Linked DNA regions of Homo sapiens. The protein of the gene in region 1 interacts with the protein of each later gene in a biochemical or structural test. Each region holds a gene or a part of one and is shown in the gene's direction. Other genes may lie near its edges.

The links. Proteins that work in one complex are often made in the same cells at the same time.
Region 2: the proteins of PTPRM (region 1) and BCCIP form a complex in vitro, tested with the Homo sapiens proteins (one study listed by BioGRID).

What each region holds. Positions count from the first base shown.
Region 1 is NC_000018.10:7,562,293-7,571,215, forward strand, and holds the start of PTPRM (receptor-type tyrosine-protein phosphatase mu isoform 1 precursor), read left to right. Parts: upstream 1-5,023; 5' UTR 5,024-5,526; coding exon 5,527-5,599; intron 5,600-8,923. UniProt on the Homo sapiens protein: Receptor protein-tyrosine phosphatase that mediates homotypic cell-cell interactions and plays a role in adipogenic differentiation via modulation of p120 catenin/CTNND1 phosphorylation.
Region 2 is NC_000010.11:125,825,982-125,834,635, forward strand, and holds part of BCCIP (BRCA2 and CDKN1A-interacting protein), read left to right. Parts: intron 1-609; coding exon 610-684; intron 685-1,576; coding exon 1,577-1,657; intron 1,658-4,580; coding exon 4,581-4,670; intron 4,671-5,438; coding exon 5,439-5,626; intron 5,627-7,790; coding exon 7,791-7,965; intron 7,966-8,654. UniProt on the Homo sapiens protein: During interphase, required for microtubule organizing and anchoring activities. During mitosis, required for the organization and stabilization of the spindle pole.

The sequences.
Region 1 (8,923 bases):
CAGGAAGTGGAAATGAACTCATTTAACTCACACAGTTGGAATTCAAATGAAGTTGGACTCTAGATAGTGCTAGCTCTCTCCTTTATCCCTTCCTTCCTTCTTCCCTTCCTTTCATCCTCCTACCTTCTCTTCCTACAACTTGCCATCCTTGAATATGTCATTTTGGAAATCTATACAAGAATGCTTATTTACATTTCCCATTTCTCTCAAACCACACTTTCATAATCCCAACATGCATCTAAAAGTGGGAAGTAATCATTTCAGCAAGGCCTAGATAAGAAAACATGAGCAATGGAAACAATGACAATCTTTTCTTTTCCTTTTCCATCGGTTACAATTGAGTGACCTTGGGAGGTATCCAAATGATCATTTTGTCCATGCTTCTTGGCAAATACTTCAGCTAGCTTAGGAACTTGCCGCACGGGGTTAACCTCCTAATTCGACATAACGTTTTGGATAGGTAGGGATGGGTTATGGTCAGATCAGTTTTCATTGTTATATTTACATTTTGACTTTAATGGGGTTTGGACAAATCTCAAGAGCAGAGTTGCTATTGCCAGGCCCCAGCACTGCACAAGTACAGCCAGCAATTCGGCCCACCGACTGGCAGGATGGGCTCCTGCCCTGGGCATCACACACCTATAAAAATAAATTTGTTAAGGAACATACAGCCACTTCTGTCAGTAGAGGTCTGGTGCTCAGTGTTAAAGACTGCATAAAACTTTACCCTAAACTTTTGCTTTCAAAACCAACACCGTTCGGGCCCCAGAGAAACACTTCTCCCCTATAGTCCCTTGTCCTTGAAACAAAGGTGAGTGCATCCCACAACCTGAAGATTTGCAGGGTGTGCTGCTGCTGACATGGAAGATGGACACTCCTAAACGTGTGGATGATGTATAGTGGAGGCGCTTGATTCAAAGAAAAGTCAAATGAATTAAACTGTCAAAACCTTCCTTTTAGATAGCAAGCATATCATACAGTCTTAAATAATGAGGGTTTCCTAGCAATGCCAAACATTCATTTTCTTGCTTCTCTTTTTGTTACAATTCATGGTTCTGGCAGAAGTCATACAGCAGTATAGCATTTGCATGCGGTTGAACGTGGTGATTGGCCAATATTTTGAAAAATTAACTAATTAATGTTACTGTTAAAATGGTAGATATGAAGTTATAACACATGAAACATAATACTGATTATTTATGTTAGCAACCAGGTGGACAATGAATGCTAGAATTGCTAAGTTTATGTTTTATTTACACATTAATAAGGTGTAATTAAATTTCCAAATATTAAATAAAATGTTTATGCTTTAAAAAAATAACTTTTCAGTGTTTATATTCATTGTCATAATTTGTATTTTGCATTTTAATTCTAATAGATAACTTTAAATCATTTGAAAGAAAACTTTTAACAACTATAGAAAAATAATTCTAATTTTCTGAAATAAAAAAAGGAATTTACATTTGTGGTGTAAGTACAAACATTTTGTATGATTTGACTACATTAATCCTTTATTTATTTATTTTTTAGAATTGGGATTTCATTCTTTACCCAGACGGAGTGTAGAGTGCACAGCTCATTGCAACCTCAAACTCCTAGGCTCAAATGATCCTCCAGCCTCAGCCTCCTGAGTAGGTGGGACTACAGGGATAAACCACCATGTTTGACTATTTAAAAAACTGTTTTGTAGTGACAGGATCTTGCCATGTTGTCCAAGCTGGTCTAGAAATCCTGGCCTCAAGTGATCCTCTGGCCTCTGCCTCTTGAGTCGCTGGGATTACAGGTGTGAGCCACCACATGGGGCCTGAATAGATGAATCTTTTAGATCAATGTTGTTCAATAGTGCTTTCTATGATGATGGACTTGTTTTCTCTCCATGTTGTACAATACATTAGCTCTAGCCACATGAAGCTACTGAGCATTTGAAATGTAGCTAGTGTCACTGAGGAACAGAACACCTGAAATGCTGTTAGGTGCTACCATACAGAACAGCAAAGCTTTCAATCACCGCTGTCAATGGAACACAAATTAAGTGAAAATCTCAATTATAACAACACAGTGATTTTACTAAAGAGAAATATCAATTTTATAGAATAAATATATATGAATCATGTATATTACTTATCCATATAGCCTATCAAAGAAAATCTAGATATGTATAATGTCTAGCAGATATGCATAATTCAGTTGCTGATATTTTGCTTTTTGTCATATAAAATCTGTAGGTTTTATATTTCAATTTTATTGTTATATGTGTCAAGGTAGGAATATACATAGTAGTTTGCTAGCTTAATTAATAACTTTGAAATATTAGGCATATGGTAAGTGGCTATGCATTTGTACTCTTGCCCAAGCCTACCAATGTCAGGGGCTGGCCTGACAGCACCCCTAACTCTGAGCAGCCATTCTGCAAATGTCACTATTGTCCTCAGTGAGTCAGGAGTGAAATGTGGTTAAAACTAAATCTCTACTGCTGAAAAAACAAGTCAAAGCAAATGTCCCACTGGGAGGATTCCTACAGCATCCCTTCCTTAGAGGAAGTCCAATCCATTCATTTCAGCAGAGGACTTCCATTTAGGCTCAAAGGCTGCTCTGACCAGTTACCTGTAAGAGGGAGTAAACTAACAGTAGTTGTCATGAATTGAGAGGGCAGAAGCTGCTGGCAAAAATCCCACCACCCTTTGAAATGTGGATGGAAGGCTGCAAAGGGTAGAGTCAACTTAACAGTGTAAAGATAGAGAACAGGGGTAATAGAAATTTACAGACCCTCCCACTAAGCTTTAAGTAACAGGCAGAAGGGACAGGGTTTGTAGAGGTTACCAAGAGGAGTCCTGTGGCAGCAGCAGTTGGAGTACTGGCAGGGATTTCTGTCTAATGCCTCAGTGGCAGGTCCGTAGAGTGGCCCTTTCCTCTTCCATCCAGCTCCTCATCGTCCCCCCGCAGGGGGATTGAGTTTCCCTTGCCCATAGTGGTAACCTGCTTATTGACACATCTCATATCGATGTCTGCTTTTTTTTTTCTTCTCTGTCTTGCTGTCTCACCTTCCTTATAGTGCTTTCTGGGATCACTTCCCCAATTCAAAACCACTTATAGTTAAATCCTAACCTCCAGGTCTGTTTCTGAGGGAGCCCAGCCTAAGACAACCTCCAGTACTTAGCACAGTGCCTGACATATGGTATTGACTCAGTAGATATTTGCTGAAAGAATAAAATACTTTGCAAATGAAATCCTACCCTAATATTAACTTCACCTAATTTAAAGAAGTTACTCTGAAGCAAAGTGATTAGATCAACTTTTGTCTCCCTAGCTTCCACCTCTGTCCTCCCACTAGCAGAAAAACTCCATTGGAAAGCCTATTACTAATTTTTTTTAAAGCAAATTTGAACTGCAGTATAGAACACAAGTACATCAAAATGGAAAGCCCAGGTTGCAGATTTGACCATCCTCACTTGCTGATCTTGAAGACATTGCTTCCTTTCTGAGATTTCAATGTTCATTTCACAATTAAAGATAAGGTTCCATAAGCACATAGTTGGGAGAAGTGGCAGGACAATGTAAGCTCATATTAACAAGCAAATGATTAATATAGAGACTTCTAAAGAGCAGGTCTGGTAAGTATCTAGTAAGTGGACTTCCTGAAGTAAGAGGAGTGTTGGTTGCCACACTAAAGGCAAGTCTTCTAGTCCCCAAATTTGCCTTGGGAGGATGACAGCTGTATCTTTCTTGGTTCTGGTGTACAGTGGAGAACAGGGTCAAGATGAGTGTGGAATCCATTTATTTTTTTACGTGTTTATAAGCACTAGAAAGCAGTGAGCACTAAGCAGAGGACCCCTCTTGCGGAAAAAGTGCAGGAGAGCTCCTGGGTGCCTCTGTATCACCGGTTTGCCTTCTAGCCAGAATCATTGCTAGAACCCTGTCACTCAGTTACTTTGGTTCCTAATTTAACCTCTTCCCAAGCCTTCTATTGCGTTCAGTTAGCTAGGCCAGGAGCTTACAGCTGTCTGGTTGGTGCTGGCTCAATGTGCTTATTCCCTGGAAGATAGAAGGATCACTTACAAAAAAATTTACAATTAAAATAAAAAAATTATTTTTTGCTGAAGCATTGTAAGGTTTTTTTAATTCACTCAGACCCAAAATCGTAAAACTAAAATATTTCAAGACATTACTTGATTCACCCCCCACTTCTCTTTCTCCCCTGTTTCTCAGCACTTTGCACCAGATACAGAAACCACGGGTTATGTCCAAACCCTGGTTTTGGTGTGACCACCGCCTTCCGTGTACTGCCTGCGGCTCGCTTCGGGCCCACACGGGACACCGAGGCATGATGAGGACGCAGAACAGCAGAAGCGCGCCCTGCTTCCCGGGCGCCAGTGCTCGGGGCCAGCGGCGTGTACCCGGCGGGCCCGGCCGGGAGCGGGCTGGCGATCGCGGGGCTCGGCGCTCCCGGCTCCCGCGCCATCTCCCGGCGCCCGCCAACTTCGCTCCGCCCGCGGCGTAGAGAAGCTCGCAGCCCTCCGGAGCCTCAGCGATCTCCTGGCTCGCTTTTCCCGCAGCCGCCGAGCAGCGCAGGCCCGGCGACTCCGGGTGCAGCTGGCCCTGTGCGGTGACATCGCCGTCCGGCGCCAGGCTCGAAGCCGCCTGGCCGCGCCCGCGGGGTCGCAGGCCGCTGGTCCCGCCCGGCCGCGCTCACAAACTACTCGCGGCTCGTGACCCGGGACAAACTTCTGGCGGCGGCGCAGCCTCTTCCACAGTCACCCTCCCCAGAGCCAGCTACCAAAATAGAAGACGCGGCCGGGGCGAGGAGGTGGGCGGGGGGAGCCCGGTGGCCGCTCCTCCCCGCGCGGCTGACGCCCGCTTCGGCGGCGGTAGTGGCTGTGGCCGCGGGGCCGCCCCCAGCCGAGCTCCCGGAGGCGCTCGGGCGCGGGCCGGCGGGGCACGGGCGCTCACGCCCTCTAGCGGGCCGCGGCGGCGCCGGGCGGCCGTGACGTGAGCGCTCCCTTCAGCCGGCCTGCGGGGCACCGCCAGTCAGTCGGGGAGCAAGAGCCCCGCGCGCAGCCGGCGCGGGCTCGGTCATCGGCGCGCCGCCGCCCGGGGCTGGGCTTGGGGCTGCCTGTGGAGAGGCGGCGGGCGGAACGCGCGCGGCCACGGCCACGGCCACCGCCACGGCCACGGCCGGCAGCTCGGGTCCCGGGTCCCGGGCAGGGGAAGGGGAGAGGCGGCGAGCTCAGCAACCGGAACCGAGGGAAGATTTTGGCTCCGCGGGCTCGCCCTCCGCTCCCTCTGCCAGCGGCGCCAGACGCCGAGTGGGGCCAGGGACAGGGGAGGAGGACCCAGGACCCTGTGCCCGCGCCCCTGGAGCCGCTGGAGTTCGGACTTCTGCAACTGTTGGCACTTTGGGGGCTTGGCTTAGCGCTCTGCTGTTTACCCGTCTCTCCTCGCTGCCTCGGAACCAAAGCTCCCGGCCCCCTCCGCCCTCGCGCGCCCACCCACCGCCGCCGGGGAGCGGCCCGGCCCGCACTCAGCACCATGAGGGGACTTGGGACTTGCCTGGCGACTTTGGCCGGACTTTTGCTAACTGCGGCGGGCGAGACGTTCTCAGGTAAGCGGGACCGCCTCTGCCGCCCCCGAGGCGCGCGGGCCGGCGCGGGACGCCCGGGACGCCGACAGCTCCCTGGTGGTAGAGCCCTAAGGCTGGCGTCGGGGCCGGGCGGGGGGCGCGGCGGGCCGGACACCGCTTCTGCCTGTGAGCCGGGCGCTGGGCGAGGGGCCGTGGGGCTGGCAGGCACCCAGTCCTCGGGCGGGCGGAGCGGACGGACCCCGAGGGCGAGCTCCCCAGCCGGGACTGCCAGCTCGGCCGCCGTCCTTCCGCGGCCTGGGCTAGTGCTCAAGGTTGGGCGGCTTGCACTCTTGAGTCCCTGGCCGGCTGCAAAAGGAACAGCAGAAAACTTTGCTTGAAGTTCCCAGTTGCAGCCGCCGGGCCGCCTGGCGTAGGCGCTGCGCGGTCCCCGCCGACCCCGAGCAGCGGCCGGGCCCAGGCCGCTGGTGTTCGGCTGCGCCCGCAGCGATCGCCGGGAACTGGCGGCCGCTCCGGCGGCGGCGATCTCCCGGTGCCCTGCCCTCCCTGTCGCCCCCTGCCCGGCGCGGCTGGCGACCCCGGGAGGTCCCCGCGGTCGTGCAGCGTCTGCGGAGAGGCTGGGGGGAGTTCCTCGCCGGTCCCAGCGGTAGGGCTTGGCGGCCGCGGAGGGAAGCGGGCAGGTCCCCAGGCCCTGGCCACGGCCCTGCGCCCCGCTGGGCTCCCCCTCCCCACCCTCGTCCCCCTAGCGGAGCGCCGCGGCCAGCTGCAACTTGTTCATCCAGCCCGGCTGCCCGGGGGTCCCAGGTGGGAAGGAGAGGCACTGGCGGTGTGCGAGCAAGCGTGTGAGTGTGTGCGCGTGTGTGCCTGCACGCGCGCGCGGGGGCGTTCTAAGCCCAGAGGAACCCCTCACGGAGAGGATCTGTGGATCGGAGTCGGGGGTCCGGCGTGGGGGCGAACCCGGCACGCTGTCACAGGGGTTTACAACCAGGATGACCTTTATTACCTGGGTGACACAGGTGGATAGACGGCAAATGCTGGCCCATTTGCACACCTTCTTTCTAGTGTTTATTAGATTAGTTTCATTAAGGTCCACATGCAGTGGGGGCGGTGGGCTTTCTTTTTCTTTAATAAAAAAGCCTGCTCTTTGGTCTTAAACTTGGTTTTTGCAAAATAGGTCTCTGCGTTTGGGAACAAGTGAGTTGAATGAGTAAGTTGGGCTTTTTAAGAATTTAATGAAGAGGACTTTCATAAACAGTAAAGAGCATATTTTAAGCAGTAAAAACCTTTGGTCCTCCGGTGCGTGGAAACCTTTTTATTTTCTTGGGGTCCAGGACCATTGGCTGCTGGAGCTCTGGACTCACAGGCACATTAGTTGTGTCTTGTGTGTTGCTGATCTGCAGGACCCTTGATCACAGTTGGCCTCAGAGAAGGAGTGGAACGTGTAGGTTTTGAAACCCAAAGCATCAACTTCAATACAGAAATATCCTTTCTCCAAGTTTTGTGTTTCCCTAACTGCCTGGTAATTGCACGTGCTCCAGAGGATTTAACACAATGATGCACTGTCGTCTGATTATAAAACTGATGCAGAATTTGGTCTGTGTTCTTATTAGTGAATAATAGAGTAGAATTTGAGAGCCTTGTAACTCATTAGTATTAGAAGCCAAGTATGAGAGCCCTAGTGATGGTTTTCTCTTTATTAACATCCATGACTCCCTTCTTGGGATTTGTTTAAAGTTAAGCTGTGTCAAATATCATTTGGATGGATTTTTAAATTGTGTGCAAGGGAGTGGAAACAAATATTTATATTGCTTATTTAAACCATGGGTTCCTCATCACCAAAAAGGATTTCAGCCTCAGTTGTACTGACCCATGTCCTTGTTAAGGCTGATGTAAATGATCAGTCAAGCCAAAATAGACTTCTACTAAAATTTAGCCTGATTTTTCATTTGGAAGAAATATATCTATTTGTTTGAGTTAATCATACCATTAAGTGAAATGTGTTTTCTTTTCTATCTAGAAAGCCAGAGTTATCCTGGCATGCTAGTGGGTAAAGGGCAGCATCCAAGCCATGCCTCAGAAACGTTGAACTTTAAAAAATGTAAAATTGGATTAGCTGGGTGTGGTGGCGTGTGACTGTAGTCCCAGCTGCTCTAGAGGCAGAGGCAGGAGGATAGCTTGAGCCCAGGAGTTTGAGGTTGCAGTGAGCTATGATTGCACCACTGCACCCCAGCCTGGGTGACAGAGTGAGAATCCGTCTCAAAAAAAAAGTGAAAAGTGAAGATGGCAAATTTCATATGTGCAAGGATCAGATATGTTTCACTTCATTATTTATTTTTCTCTCCATATTGCGTTTAGGTAGTACAGGTGTGAATCAGGGTTTTGTTTTTTGTTTTTGTATGTTGAGGAAGTTAATTCTGAATGCTAGGAGTGGCATTGACACATTTCTTTTTTATGTTTCTTCCAGAAATTGTAGTAATTGGCTGCTTTTCACTTGACATGGGAATAAATTTTAGAGCCAGAAGAGCTAGATTGTAAGCTCCCTGAGGGCAAAGCCAATTTTCGTTTTCTTCTGACTTTCTCACAAAACATTTCTCATAGATCCTTAGATGTCACAGGCATTATTACTATTTGTTGAATAAATCACTAATGAGAATCTTGATCATTTGCACATATTCAAATTGTGTGTGAATGGACCAATATATAATAAAATGGAGGGAGAGAAGTGATTGTTAAAAGTTAGACTTGGCTTGCCTTTTCCACACTGGGTTCTCTTTAGGCCAATGGACTAATCATGAGGGTTTATAAATATAATCAGTCAAGGGTTTTTGTATAACTCAGACATTATCTACACAAGGCACTCTGCCCTTTGCTTTCTGCAGTGCTCTCCTGTCCTCTTTTGGAATGGGTTTGGAATTGTTAAGATTGTTAATTAACCATTTCTGGAGGTGGACTACATGTGATTTGGATACCAGACATCAGAAATAGAATGCTAAACTTACTGGAAAAGTATTAGGATTTGGGCCTGTGATGACATTGCTTACTTATAATGATGGATTTCATTACAAAATTGTGGGTTTTTTTTTTTTTTTGGAGATAGAGTCTTGCTCTGTCGCCAGGCTGGAGTACAGTGGCACGATCTTGGCTCACTGCAACCTCCACCTCCCGGGTTCGAGCGATTCTCCTGCCTCAGCCTCCCGAGTAGCTGGAACTACAGGTGTGCACCACCACCACCGCCAGCTAATTTTTGTATTTTTAGTAGAGACGGGTTTTCACCATGTTGGCCAGGATGGTCTCAATCTCTTGACCTTGTGATCTGCCTGCCTTGGCCTCCCAAAGTGCTGGGATTAC
Region 2 (8,654 bases), on another chromosome or scaffold:
TCTTTGCTGTTTCTCGGTTTCTTGCTCAAATGTCACTTCAAGGAAGGCTTTCCTGACTGACTTCTTATTTTTTAAGTTGTTACAACATTGTGTACCTTTGTTTTATAGCACTTACATTTATTTCTATGAATATTTCCTTAATGCCTATATTCCTTCCTAAATCGTAAGCTGCACGAGAGCAGGATCATTTGTGTCTGCCTTACTAACCTTTTCATCTTGAGTGCCTGGCACAGTGCTTGGTACCTGGATTGATACTTAATAAATATTTGCTAAGCAAATGTAGTGTAACCTCAAATCCATGGGCTAAGTCAAGCTCTAGGCAATTCCAGGGACTTTTGAAGTGATTTTGATTTTTGCCCACCCTTGTAATCAGGAAAATAATTTATCCTTTGTGGCTGCCGTGTCTGGTTTATTTGAACTGGACTTTCTCAACATTTAAACTAGGTTACTCTGAGTGTTTTGTTTTCTCAGGCTTTTGTGTCACCTGAAGAAATAGTGTGAAGGTGCTTTGTATTCTTCACAGATGGCAATCTTGGCAATGTTTGCCTGTTTTAAAGTCTAGATGTTTGTAGTTTTTCTGGTAACAACTATTTTGTGTGTTATTTACAGGAAGTGAATATTGAATTTGAAGCTTATTCCCTATCAGATAATGATTATGACGGAATTAAGAAATTACTGCAGCAGGTATTGTCTTTTATTTATTATGCATAAATTTCCTCTTCTAAGAAAAATCAGGGGCCGGGTGCAGTGGTTCATGCCTATAATCTCAGCATTTTGGAAGGCCGAGGTGAGAGGATTGCTTGAGCCCAGGAGTTTGAGACCAGCCTGGGCAACATAATGAGAACCTGTCTCTACAAAAAAATTAAAAATTAGCCAACTGTGGTAGCACACACCGTTAGTCCTAACTCCTCAGGAGGCTGAGGCTGGAGGATTACTTGAGTCTAAGAGCTCAAGGCTGCAGCTATGAATGTGCCATTGAGCTCCAGTCTGGGCAACAGAGTGAGCCTCTGTCTCTAAAAAAAAAGAAAATTCAGGTCATTCAATACAGGCTCTCCCAAGTTCATCTTTTTAGAATTTCCATTTCTATCCTCTCCACCTTGCCTGGAAGGAAGAATTATTTCCTTTCATCTGCTAATTAGAGTTATTTTGTTTTTTTTTTTAATTCACAATTCTTATGTAACAGTCATATAACTGTGCTGTTTGGTGCTATAAAATTGATGCTTGCTGCTTCTCCTTATTCTTTTACTCATATAATATGACTTTGGTTCTTTAGCCTTTATAGCTCTACCGTCTTTTTCACCAAATTCTTTGGCCTTAAGTTTATCCTCTCTCGTTTCTCCCTTTTTTCTCCCCCTCCCCCATTACTTCTATATTACTACTGACTTCTTCTTTTCTGAAATTTCCTAATCTTTAGCTTCTTTGACTCTCCTGGGCTTTTCTTTCCCTCTTGGGGTTGCTTTTCTAGATCATCATCTTAAGTCACAGAAATTTCATTGTTTGTATTTGAATATAGGATTTGAAGTTATTAGAAATCATGCTTTGATCTTAATTTAAAATAATTTTTTCCTCCTTTTAGCTTTTTCTAAAGGCTCCTGTGAACACTGCAGAACTAACAGATCTCTTAATTCAACAGAACCATATTGGGAGTGTGATTAAGGTAAGTAGGATAATTGTGTTTATTCTGATTAAATGAGTTCTTTATTCTGTTCATGCTGGGCCTCACCATGCTTGTAATCCCAGCACTTTGGGAAGCAAAGGTGGGAGGATTGCTTGAGGCCAGGAGTTCAAGACCATCCTGGGCAATATAGCAATACTCTGTCTCTACAAAAAATAACAAAAAATTAGCCGGGCATAGTAGCACATGCCTGTAGTCTTTTTACCCAGGTGGCTGAGGTAGGAGGATCTCTTGAGCCAAGAAGTTGAAGGCCATGGTGAGCTTTGTGCCGCTGCACTCTAGCCGGGCAACACAGCAAGACCCTATATCTGAAAAAAAAAAAAAAAAAAAAAAAAAGTTCTTTATTCTGTTTAGCTCAAATTGGAAGCAGTATTACTGGAGGAATGGAGACTGATCAGAAGTCATTGCAGAAATCCAAGCTTATTAAATGCAGTAGTCCAGGTGGGGGCAATGGAGAGGGAGAGAAGTGGGCTCATTTAGAAAATATTTGGGAGATGAAATATGATGAGGTTTAGTCCCTGATTGGGTCTGAAAGTGAGAGGAAAAGGAGTCAAGGATGACTTCCAGGTTTCTAGCTTGAGCAAACAGGATAACAAACATGGAGGAAGGTCAAATTAGGAGGGGGAATGTGAATTTGGATTTGTACATTTTGAGTTTGAGTTACCTGTGAGATACCGGGTAGCAGGTGGAGCCCTGGAGACTTGGGAGTTGGTCGTAAATGTTACTGAGGTCGTAGAAGTGATTGAGATTGCGCAGGGAGGGAAGGGACAGACACCTTAGTAATACCAAGAATACTTCGATGAGTAATATAAGTGGCAGAGCCAGCAAAGGAGATTAAAAGGGATGACAGGAGAAGTAGAAGAAACAATAGTGCAGTGATGTCATACACAGCAAGAAAGATAACATTTGAAGGAGGAGGGGATGGTCATCTTTATCAGATAGATGTTGTAGAGAGCTCAACAAAATAAGGACTGGTTTAGACCCTGGGTCTGCTGCTTATCATCTGGTGGTTCTTTGGGTTATCTGTTGTTTGTATAACAAACCACCCCATAGCTTAGTGTCGTAAAATAGCAGTAGTCATTTATTTGGCTAATGGATCTACAGTTTGGACAGAGCTCAGTGGGCACAACTCATCTGTGCTCCTGCTCCATCATGTTAGCTGGGGTGGCTTGACTAGGGGCTGGAGGATTCCCTTTCAAGATGGCTCACTCACATGACTGGCAAGTTAGCCCTAGCTGTCTGTCGGGAGCTTAGCTGGGACTCTGGACCAGGGGCCTTAGTTCTTCTCCATGTGGGCCTCGTCACACATTGGTTTGCTTCCAAGAGCAAGCTGCCCAAAAGAAGCAGGCAGAAGTGATATAGTGCCATTTCCACCATTTGCTTAGTCTTTACAGATAGAAATTTCTATCTAGGGGGAGGGCACATTGATCCCACCACTCCATGAGAAAAGTACCTAGGTCACTTTGTCAGAAGAGCATGTCCAAGGAGAGATCCATTGGGGCCATCTGTGAAAGATACAGTCTGCCACAGTACCTTAATCTGTTTCCATTTCTGTCTCTGAAAATGAGGATGGTACTAGCACCGATCTTGTAGAGTGCATGGGTAAACAAAATGAATTGCTGACTGCTTAAAACAGTGTCTGGCAGCTGACATGTGCTACATATGTGTAGCTGTCACTGTTGATGTCTTTTTCCTGTTCCTAGCACCTGTTCCCTAGCCTGTTGTGAAAAACACAACAAACAAAAGCTCCATTCAGTCTAATGTTCCACTCTTAAGTACATCACCTTCAGAGCCAAAATTCTTGAAAAGTAATCTTAAGTCATGGTTTCTACTTCCTGTCCTCCTATTCATTCTTCAGACACTCTTATCTGACTTTTACACCACTAAAATTCGGACACTGAGTGATAGGGTCACCAACATACTTGTTACTAAATACAGTGTACACTTTTCAAGGCTTCTGACAATATTAGTAACTTTATGGCACTCAATGTAAAGAAAATGAGAAATTAAACCTATGGGGCATTCCTTTTATTAGGGCAATGGGAAAAAGCAGACCACCTGCCCTTTCATCAAATAAATGTGATCTCTAGCTGATTCGTGTCTTAGAAGACCTAATGGATATGGAGGAGAAGCAGTTATTTTTATCCTTGAAAGAGGTTATTATCTAATGGCAGGATTCACTCTTTAAATGGATAATCACATCAATAGCTCTGCAGTTGTAACTGTGGCTTCTTGGGATTCTCCAGAGACACTTGAGGTGTCCTGAGGATAGAGACTTCTTGTTCTTAGTAAAGGGACTACCCATAGTGTTCGGTGGAGCCAGTCCCTAGGATCATAGAACAAAGGGCAGGGGGTTCTCTTTTTTCCCCTTCTCTCTTGCTAATGTGATAGGTGTAAGTGGCCCTCAAGCATTGCCTAGCTTCACTAATGGTCAAGACTGACAAGTGTTCTGGAAACTCATGAGTTTTAGATGAAACAATGCTGTGGGCCAGCAGAGAAGCAAGGCTTGGCTCCAGCCTAATTGTGTAGAAAACAAATGAAAATGCTTTATTTCATGAGGTTTATCTCTTCTGGATTTGTATTATATTGAGAATCTGATAAAAGAAAATGACTTAATCTGGTACAAAGAAATTTCAATCTGTTCAGAATCTGAAAAGAGGAACAGAGTCGAGGTAAAGCGAAATGAACAAGGTCACACAGTATTTAAGATACAATGCTTTCCAAGATGATGGTGGTAAAACTGTGACAGTATTTAAAATACAATGCTTTCTAAGATGGCGGTGGTAAAACAAAGTTTTGCTTTTGAAAAGTGAAAAGATAAATGAGGCCTACATCCCAAGACTTGGTTTTATACTCTTGGTATTATACTAAATATAACATTTAAATATTTTTTCTTTTAAAATAGCAAACGGATGTTTCAGAAGACAGCAATGATGATATGGATGAAGATGAGGTTTTTGGTTTCATAAGCCTTTTAAATTTAACTGAAAGAAAGGTTGGTTTCACTGGATGGCATCTGAATGGTTATTTCTTAGGCCAAAACCACTTTTATTTAATGCATGGTGAAAATGTCTTTTATGTTAAACAGTGATATTAACTATAGGGATAAGTGCTCTTGTGAAATCTTATTGTAATCCTTTTTCAATATGAAGGTGGTGGTGTTGGGTCTGTACCCAGTTAAAGTTGTTTACTCCCTGTGGTTTAGGGAATCATCTGGCTTTGCAGTCCTGATGTTGGTACTGATGCAGGAGCTGTTTGTGCTGTCTCTCTGCAGCTGTTATCTTTGCTACTTGTGTAGTGGGGATATTCTCAGGCTTTGCTGCCTCAATGTTGAGGGCATTTACTGACATTTTATTTTGTTTCGATTCATCTCTTTTTATTGATTCTCTGATGAGTTGTAATAAAAAGTAAACCAGCTGCTTACCCACCTCAGAATAAGATGCAGGCTACACTTAGTCTTTAATTTTGAAATAAACTGTCCAGTTACTTCCATCTATCTTTATGAGATGGACTAGAGTTGCCATTCCAGTGTGTCTGAATGTTAATTATGACTCTCTTACCACTCATCATGGGATGGTAAATAACCAGTGTATTTACTTTTGAGAAATGCTTAAGCAGTCAACACTGAAGACATACAAGACGTTAAGGCTATGGCAGGAAACTGCCCTTAGCTGTAAGATGAAAAGTGATAGCTTTTACTCTCAGGTTTTGTCCTCTATGTGATGGCTTGTAATAGGAAACAAGCTTTCTCTTTGCTTTCTAGGGTACCCAGTGTGTTGAACAAATTCAAGAGTTGGTTCTACGCTTCTGTGAGAAGAACTGTGAAAAGAGCATGGTTGAACAGCTGGACAAGTTTTTAAATGACACCACCAAGCCTGTGGGCCTTCTCCTAAGTGAAAGATTCATTAATGTCCCTCCACAGATCGCTCTGCCCATGTACCAGCAGCTTCAGTAAGAGATTCTGGGAAAATATCTTTGAACAGTAATTTTTTTTTCAAATAGATTCCTAAATGTCATTTAAGTAGAATATGTAGATATAGAAAGAGTTCTGTCCTTGGTTTAAGTGGGTTTAGTGTGAGGGGAGTGGAAGAAACATCCTGTGAAGTACATACATTATTAACAACTGGCTTTTTGAAGAGTTTGTGACAATAATCATGAAATTTTAACTTAAGATTTAAGTGATATATAAGTAGATAATTTCATATAGACTTTGCATCCCCATTTGATTGAAGTTTTTCACCTTCACAGATAGCTTTCTGCAACATGAATAAAATAATGAACAATTACAACAATAACAAAACTGGTAAAGTTCCCAAATTCTATTGGTATGTTTCATAACAAATGAAACCATAGTCCTGATACTGTGGCTAGCTTTTCAGGGTTTTTGTTATTCTATTTTTTAATCCAGAAGTTTTAAGTTTACAAAAATATTTCAAATGTAGCTGTGAAATCTAGCAAACTGAGTGTACTAAGAATTGTATTGTCTGTGCTTTGCAACAGAGGACAAAATATAGGCAGATTCTCTTATTTATTTCTATCTAATTTAAATTTTTTTTTTTTTTTGGTAGAGACAGGGTCTTGCTACATTGCCCAGGCTGGTCTTGAACTCCTAGGCTAAAGTGATCTTCCTGCCTCGGCCTCCCAGTGTTGGGATTACAGGTGTCAGTCACAGCACTTGACCTAGACAGGTTCTTTATAGAATATTCTTTCTCAGAGGTCATAGCCCTTGCGTTGTGGTTTTCCTTTAAATAGCTGTAGGAATGCAACTCTACTCTGGAAACCTTTACGTTTGCTGTTTTTTCCTAGGGATTCGATGCTTCTTATCTCCTGCTCCCTGCTCTCTCAGCTGTAGCTCAGATTGTGCTTCTGGTGCCTTAAGTGGTTTTTGTTTTTTTTTGGTTTTCTTTTTTTCTGATCAGCTGGAGCTCACATTTATTTGGTTTTATAGGAGGGTGATTTGCTTTCTCCTAGTCCTGTTAAAGCTGAAGTGAGCCAAGCGCAGTGGTGCACGCCTGTAGTCGCAGCTACTCAGGAGGCTGAGGCAGGGGGAATGCTTGAGGCCAGGAGTTCCAGGCTGCAATATACTATGATTGTGCCTGTGAATAGCCACTGCACGCCAGCCTGGGCAAAATTACAAGACCCTATCTTTTTTTTTTTCTTTTTTTTTTTTTGAAAAGGCCAGGTGTGGTGGCTGACACTTGTAATTCCAACACTTTGGGAGGCCGAAGCTGGCAGATCACTTGAGGCTAGGAGTTTGAGACCAGCCTGGCCAACATGGCGAAACCCCAATTCTACTAAAAATACACCCACAAAAAATTAGCCGGGTATGGTGGTGCAGACCTGTAATCCCAGCTACTCAGGAGGCTTAGGCACGAAAATCGTGTGAACCTGGCAGGCAGAGGTTGCAGTGAGCCGAGATTGTGCCATTGTACTCTACAGCCTGGGCAACAGAGTGAGATTTTGTCTCCAAACGAAAAAAAGAAAAAAAAAAAAAAGGAAAGCTGAAGAGGACGGTTGTTCTGAGTTTCTTCTTTTGTTCAAGGGCATCCAGATGCACAAGGCTATGTTTAATTTTCAGAAAGAAGAAACATTAAGGCTTTGTTGCGATTCCATTGCTAGAATTTAGGTTGTGTGTTTATGCAGTTTCTGCAGTATGTCAGAAATTAGTTCCAGACTCTAGCAATTAGAGACTGTGGTAGTAGTCACAGGCTGTAGTGACATTGGTTGTGGCTGTATACCTTTGTGTGTTTCAGTTAAATGTTCATTGCTTTAAAAAATTCAAAAATTCAGATTCGTATATATTTTTAACTTATGCACAGGCAGAGCAGTGATACATTGAGTGAATTTGAGACTCATCTGATCTGTTAGTTGCTATATATCCACAAATCAGCATAATCTGAGAGATATATCATAGTATTATAAAAAGTAATACATAATCTAAAATGCAACTGATTATGTAAATAAAAATCATTCCTGTAGACTAAGTGTTCAGATTGAATGCCTGCGTCACAGCAGAACCCACTGAAGATGCCTCACCGGGTTTTCTGTGCTCTGGTTTGTTGATGGATTTCACTTGACCCAGCAGGTAAACAAATGTTGTGTGTGTGCCTTGCAGGAAAGAACTGGCGGGGGCACACAGAACCAATAAGCCATGTGGGAAGTGCTACTTTTACCTTCTGATTAGTAAGACATTTGTGGAAGCAGGAAAAAACAATTCCAAAAAGAAACCTAGCAACAAAAAGAAAGCTGCGTTAATGTTTGCAAATGCAGAGGAAGAATTTTTCTATGAGGTAAGACTATCCTGCTTATTTGTTTAGATGTAAATAAGGATTTTCTTGAAAATGATTTATCAAGATTTATTGTTCTCCCACTTTAGGTCCAAGTCTTTCAAGTGTGGCTACTCTGTTTTTCTGTTTCCCCACAGGACCTAGCAGCTAACATAGTGCCAGGTGCATAGTAGGTACTCAGGAGGCTAGGCACCAGCCTCCTTGCCTGCACTGTGGTTATGAGCATGAGGAGGAGGAGGAGAAAAGTGATTAACCTGTTAAGAATGATTAGGCATTTATAATATGCTTCCTGTGAAATCTTTCATTCTAAAACCATGCGGAGAGGTAGACATTAGCCTGGGGTTTACAGATGTGGACTTTAAGGCATAGGGAAATGAGGGAAATTACCTGCGATCACACAGCTGGTCAGTGTGGAAGCTGGGGCACCCCTGCTGCTCTGTGTCCTTAGTCGTGGATGTCATCCTGCTGGTGGGATATCTCCAGCATTTTTTTCCTATAAAGGTAGCTTGTACTGTGATGGACAGCCATATACCAGAGAATATTCTTACCCTCTCTTCCTCTGAAAAATCTTGAAGTGGGCCAGGTGCGGTGGTGCACACCTGTAATCCCAGCACCTTGGGAAGCTGAGGCGGGCAGATCACCTGAGGCCAGAAATTCAAGACCAGCCTGGCCAACAGGGAGAAACCCCATCT